2 linked regions of the Homo sapiens genome follow. The protein of the gene in region 1 interacts with the protein of each later gene in a pairwise test. Each region holds a gene or a part of one and is shown in the gene's direction. Other genes may lie near its edges.

Region 1 (3,660 bases):
CCTAAATGTATTGGGAAATTTTCAGGGGCTTAAGCATTATCTTCTTCATGTTTTAAAGGAAAAACCTGTTAATATTTGTGGAATACTGATTACAGGCTAGGCACACCTTAGCCATTTTTCATGCAAAATGATCTTTGGCATAAGATAATTGTGATTTTACAGATAAGGAAAATGAAGTTTAGAGATCTTGAGTAACTTGTCTAAAGCCACATAACACGTAACTAACAGTGGTAGATGCTACTGTTTATCAGAAATAAAAAGTTAACTTAGCAAAGGAGACTTTTAGAGTGAGTGGCCAAAAAGGTCAGAGGGATACAGGTGAATGTTGTGTCACTAAAGTCAAAATAAAAAATATTTTAAGAAGGAAAGATAGGTGAGTTTTTCTAATGTAGCTAGAGAACTCATGCCGATATTTACAAGAACTTATTTCTTAACATCCTAGTAGTGTAGGTTGTGTGTTATGATAGAGTCATTTACAAAATCACATGGCTGTATCTTTTGTAGCTGAGAGTGAAGCAAAAGTAAAAACCAAAGTTCGCTTTGAAGAATTGCTTAAGACCCACAGTGATCTAATGCGTGAAAAGAAAAAACTGAAGAAAAAACTTGTCAGGTCTGAAGAAAACATCTCAGTAAGTAAATGATCATTGGGTAATAGTGATTTACATATGCGCATAAAATGCAGATATGGCTGCATTTTATGTTAAAATTCTAAGGAATTTTGAAAATTAAAAACAGTAACACTATGTCATGGTCAATAACATGTGGTAAAAATAAAGTTTATATTAGAATCAACATCACTGTGAGAATATTGACTTCATTCTTGAGTGCTGTCCTACAGGAAGAACACACACACAGTGGGGAAAATGACCAGAGATAGTGGGGAAACTCAAAACTAGCCATGATAACATTTTTGAAGAAAATATTTTTAACCCAGAATTGTGAAGAACTTAGGAAGTAGTATCTTAACTTCAGATATTGAATAGCTTGTGCTTATTTAAACTATTTCTGTGTGATTCTACCCAACAGAACCAGGAGAAATCAATGGCCGTATGGTAATAATTATCCTTTTATGTTTGAGGCACACTTTCAAATGATAGAATCTTTGGCAGCACACTTGAAGGAATTAAAAATACAGTGCTCAAAGACTAAGCAAATCAGCAACTAACTACAACCTGATCCCCTTGGAATCATAAAGAGTCTGTATTGGCATCCACAGTTAATGCTCTATGCCCTCTTTATACCTATCTCCCTACTTGAGTTGCACTTTTTACTACTTTGACCATTATCTCTTCTGTCCTCACAGAAAAAAATAAACAGGCTCTTGTGTAAATGGTACATAGTTTTTTTTTTTTTTTTGGCAGGAGTTTTATAATGAGTTATAATCCTACATTTTGCTTGTAGTAAGATTTACCCCATTTTTTCTTAAGACCTGTTCATTTTAGTATTCTGTCTGGCAGATGTCAATGTAACAATATAAATTCTGAAGTGAGGCAAAAACAAGTAGTAAAATTGACCAAAATCCAGCTGCACATATGTGAGGGTTCATAGTGTATACACTGGTGTACGACTGCACAAAAATTTCGAACTACTGACAGAATGGACAGATTAGCACTCCCATAGTGATTGCTGCTCTGAAATAGCATGTGCTTTTTCTGGTGGTACTAGTGCACAATATGGTAGGGAATAGTGACATGGAGGATGAAACATTGCTTATTGATATATGCGCTCCCCTCAGATGGAGTGGTTTATGTTGGGCAAAAGCAAAAAGAACCCTGGAAACAGTTGTCTGCAGAGATGTTTTATGCTCAGAGAAGAACCTCATATTGTCTCTTAGTATTAAAGAACTGGGAGTTGTGAGCCATGAACAAAATGCAATTTAGACCAAGGTTTAAATTAAATGGATAATCAGAATAGGCAGAGGCTATGTCCATTTACCTAAGGTCCAGTTTAAATGTTGAGGGGCACATAAGTGTGAGGTGACTAAGCATAATTTATCCAGCCTCTCTTTGCAAACACCAGGACTGAATAGGCTTCTTTTCTTTCAGAAATAAGTACACTAGGAACAAATATTTGGGAAGATATTTCGCAGCTCAAAAGAACAGGAATATTTCTAAAGGACTTAGAGGAGAACAAAATATTTTTGACATGATTAACTTGAGGAAGTAAAAGAGGAATAGCTGCTTTCATTTGCTAGATGCCTTAATGCTTTCTATCTTTAGGCACTCTTCTAAACACTTTATATATATTTAGTCGTTTAATACAAACGACGAAATTACAGGGTTTTATTTCTGTACAGGAGAAAACTACATCAGAAGTTAAGTAACTTGCTGAAAGTTACATAGTAAATGGTAGAACCAGGATTCAAACACTGAGTGGAAGTGCAGAATCCACTGCCTTAACCACAACCCAATATTATCTATTTTAATGAAATTTGAAAAGATAGGACTTCTTCTTGAAAGAAGAACAGGGAGTCCTATGTACAGAACAGGCTGAGATGAGAAATGGAGCAGTCTGAAATAAAATTAAGCGAGGAAAAAAGTCAAAATAGGGATTCATAATAATGGCAGGTTCATCTTATATTCCAGTTATATATAAGGCACAATAATAAGAGTTTTACAAATATTATTTCTAAATCTCATGTTAATCATGCAAGATAGATATTGGGATTCTTTTTTTGCACATGAGAAATTTTATAAACAGACAAACAGACATGTTAGGTGATTTCCTTAGGTCATTTAGTCTAAAATAGGATAAGTGGGATTTAAGACCACAGTCTCTGCAATTTTAAAGTTCATGTTCTTCAGTTGCTTCCTTAAAACTATATCTCAGGCCTAAAATGATGGAATTGACACTACGGAAAAATCTAATCAGTGAAGTGGGAGACAAATTCGAGGTGGGAAGAAATGACCAAAACTAAAATGAAAGAAATAAATGATGAGGACATAGAAAGATATTTGACCCACAAATAAGTATCCCGGGACAGTACTAGTGGAGCAGAAACAATAATGAGCATGATGAAGAAACCTTGCTGAGATTTCTGAAGAGATGAGTCATCCTGCATTCCAGGCAAAATTTATGAGATGAGAACTATATCTAGAAAATTCTTTTGTTTGTATCTTAAGAGTCAAATATTGCAGACACCTAAACACAAAAACATATAGTACATTTGAGACTTCTCTGTAAAAACACTAAATCCAAAAGACAATGGAGAAATATTTAGAGCACTAAGAGAAAAATTGTAGCCTGAGGAATCTGGTCACCTAAGTTGTCAGTCATTTGTGATGGTAGTTGTAAACATATGTGCATTATTAGAGAAATATCAGTGTTCCCTCCCTGGAAAAAAAAAAAGATTTAAGATTTATTAAAGATGTAGTACCATTTCTAGATATGAATCAAAGTTAAGAATTTAAGAATAGAACATCTTAAGATCTTAGAGGAAGGGATGAAGAGAAGTTGGTTAAGGAGTACAAAAATATAGTTAGAAGGAATAAGTTCTAGTAGTCAGTATTACAGTAGGGAAATTACAGTTAATAATTTATTGTATATTTCAAAATAGCCAGAAGAGAAGATTTATGTTCCCAACATAAAAGATAAATGCTTGGAGTAATGGGTATCTCAGATGCTCTGATTTGATTATTATACACTGTATATGGTGTCAGA
Region 2 (3,660 bases), on another chromosome or scaffold:
ACATAACTGAATAATAACAAAATTTATCATGATGACCACCTTTAAAAATATTTTCATAATAATGTATCTATATCCAGCATTATCTATACATTAACCTTAGTCAAATTGTCATTGTTTATACTAGAGAAGTGCCGTAGTGTAGTTTTAAAAAGAATTGTGAATTTATACCTAGAAAAGTAGTTTAAAAACCTGTCTTTGCTGCTTACTAACATTAACCTTGGAAAGTTACTTAGCCTTTCTGACCCTTGGTGAACTAATCAGTAAATGGGAAAAATAATACACAGCCCACATGCCTGACTGGGTTGTTTAGAAGATTAAATTAGATATGGGTATGAGAGTGCTTTAAAAATTGCTGAAACATGTAATTACAGGTTGAGCATCCCAAATTTGAAAATCTGTAATTCACCATACTCCAAAATCCGACATGATGCCCAAAGGAAATGCTCATTGGAACATTTTTGGATTTCAGATTTTTGGATTGAGATGCTCAACTACTAAGTATATAATGGAAATATTCCAAAATCCAAATTCTGAAACACTTCTGGTTCCAAACATCTAAGATAAGGGCTATTCAGTGTGTACTAATATACAATGTTATTGAGTACTTATTGTATGCCAACCACTGTTTTGCTCAACTACTTTAACTTCCTCTTTCTAGGGCAATGTGTCAGTATTCCCTGAAGCCCCCTTCAACTCGTAAAATCTACTCTGAGTAAGATCTTTTTTAAGTCTTCGTTTTGCATAGTGGAATCAAGGATTAAGAATCAAAGAAACCATATTAAATAAGTCAGGATTGAACAATAATCTCTTTTTTTAAAACTGGCAAGTAATAAATGTACATATTCATGGAGTACCTAGTGATATTTTGATACATATACTGTACAGTGATTAGAACAGTTTAATTAGCATATCCATCATCTCGAACATTTTATCATTTCTTTGTGTTGGAAACATTGAGTATCCTTCTTCTAGCTATTTGAAACTATGTATTATTGTTAACCATGGTAGTCATCCTATAGTGGTATAGAACACTAGAACTTACTCCTCCTATCTAGCTATAATTTTGTATCTTGTAACAAATCTCAGCTTGTCCCTCATTCCCGTCTACCCTTCCCAGCCTCCAGTACCTTCTGTTCTACTTTCTACTTCTATGAAATCAACTGTTTTTAGCTTCCACATATGAGTGAGAACATGCGATGTTTAACTTTCTGTTGCTGGCTTATTTCACCAGCATCCATCCATGTTCCATCCATGTTGCCACAAATGACATGATTTTATTTGTTTTTATGGCTGAATAGTATTTCATGGTGTATATATACATTTTCTTTATCCATTCATCTGTGAACACTAATCTCTCTTACAACCAGCTTTGGGATATCAATCGTATAATACATACTAAATTTGAGAAACTGACCTGAATAATTTTCTCGAATTTTTTTGAGAAATAATAACAACTTTCTGGAATAATTATCAATCACGTCATTTTTATCTCCAGTAGAAATTTGTCCCCAGGTATTACCTGATACTTTTTAATAATCAGTATCCATGATTCTTACTTATTTTTTAAGTAAAAATAATAAAATAATAAAGAAGAGTTTTAGAGAAATGCAGACTTTTAATAGTTCAGGATACTCTTTCCAGAGGTTTCTAACCTCAGCAGTTCTTTGCAGATATTTTATTTGTAGATTTTAATGTTGTTTTAATTAAGTTACTCTTTTTAGGGAAAATAATTTATAAAATTTTATTTATTTTCAAATATGCTGTTTTTAAATAAGCAAGACCCTGTGAATCAGTTTGAAAGTGTAACTTTTTATTAAACATTTAAATCTATTATTTGATTTGCTTATTAACTCTTCCCTTATATTTGCTTATTCAGTAATTTAGTTACTTGCTACTTACATTTGGTATTAATTCACTAATTTCAGCTAATTAAAATCAAACGTACAATAATATCCTAATTTTCTTGTAATAGCTACTAAAATATAGTTATAATAGAGAAGTGTGTTCAAGTAGTTAAAAATTACCACAAGATTTATGTTCACAAATTTTCCTATGAGAATTTTTCGTCTCCAAACGTTTTGAGAGAAAAAATAAATTTTTCTGCTTAGTAAATTTCTCAACCTTAAAACAAGATGCTGGCCTAGGGCTAGGAGAGGACTTCTTAGTTGAAGCTCCTGCTTCTCTGGACAACTTTCCTCTTCCTTCTTGCAAATGCTTTGCAGAGGGACTTGCACCTCTGCTGCTGGACCTGGTCAGGAGCAAGAGGAAATTTAAAACATTCCTCGGGAGTGCTTGCTCCCAGTGGATTGCATTTGATTGCGCCTTGTCCTTCGTTGCTTTCTTTTTGTGTTGTTTAATTCTGCTTGTTTTTTACTGCTATGGATGTTGCAGATATCTGTGAAATTTTACTCTATTAGGTCATCACCTTTAGTAAATATTTATCCTTGCATAATTTGAGAAGGTAGACATGTTTGTTTTGTAATATTCCCCTTAGTAATATGAGATAGAAGTACATTGGTAATGGTAGAGATAGATATTTCTAATTAGGTACTAATGTTTCTTACAGTTTTCAGAATAAGTAAGGAATAATTTTTATGCTATATATTGCCTTCCTTTTACAGTGAAGAAGAACTGTTGTATCTGAGTTTCATTGAAGATGTAACAGATGAAATTTTGAAACTTGGTTTATTTTCAAACAGGTTAGTTTTTTTAATGGTGTTATGTTAATTCAGGAGTACATTAAATATTCTTCATATTTCTTCATATGATGTTAAAATTTTAAAGTTATTTTCCCATATTAGGAAATGAAAAAATATATTGCTTTCTTGGAAACTTATTATTATAATTGATAGCAAGTTGTAAAGAATGTTTAATTCATACTCTAGGGGAAGTTCACCACTTGGGAGAATTAAAGAATAGAGCTTTTATTCATTTTAATATTATATCCCTTGAGTTATAAGTGACTAGTGAAGGAAGATCTTTATCACTTATTTGCAAAGCTCCATAATCCCATTTTACTACCTAAAATTGTCATGAGAATCAAAAGCAAGCATTTTTGGTGCAACCATTATTAGTATTAGATCTAGTAAAATGAGAACAAATTAAGAGCTAGGTTTGCACGCTGTAAGTTAAATGGAAAGTTTGCAAAACCAGATTAGCTATTGCATAGCTTAAGGAAACTGTGTGTCCTGAATTTTGCTTGAACATTTATGTATCTAAGATTCATTGAGCACTGAGCTCTACTTTGTGTTATGTAACCTAGGACCCTATTATGTATACTACTTGCTTTCTCTGTCATAATAATATGCCAAGCATAGACATTTTTAATAAATTATTTCTATCCTCTACATCAAGTTTTTTAAAAAATTAAAGCAAACATTTTCATTATTGGTATAAAAAGGCATATCAAAAAGACCTAAGATTTTTGGCATTAATTCTGTTGACCCCTTTCATTTTAAAAAGTTGGTTAATAATATTTGCATAATATGGGTAAAGAGTTTCAGGATACATAATGAAAAGTTTTGGCAATCTGTATCACAATATGAATATACCTAACACTGCTGAATCGTGCACTTAAAAATGGTTAAGATGATAAGTTTGGTTAGTTTTTGCCACCACAAGAAAAAAAGTACACATACAAAATCATATGTATTTATGCTT

What was found.
Region 2: the proteins of AHI1 (region 1) and SPATA7 interact in a protein complementation assay, tested with the Homo sapiens proteins (one study listed by IntAct).

Annotation. Positions count from the first base shown.
Region 1 is NC_000006.12:135,487,592-135,491,251, reverse strand, and holds part of AHI1 (jouberin), read left to right. Parts: intron 1-504; coding exon 505-629; intron 630-3,660. UniProt on the Homo sapiens protein: Involved in vesicle trafficking and required for ciliogenesis, formation of primary non-motile cilium, and recruitment of RAB8A to the basal body of primary cilium.
Region 2 is NC_000014.9:88,430,514-88,434,173, forward strand, and holds part of SPATA7 (spermatogenesis-associated protein 7), read left to right. Parts: intron 1-658; coding exon 659-712; intron 713-2,621; coding exon 2,622-2,699; intron 2,700-3,660. UniProt on the Homo sapiens protein: Involved in the maintenance of both rod and cone photoreceptor cells.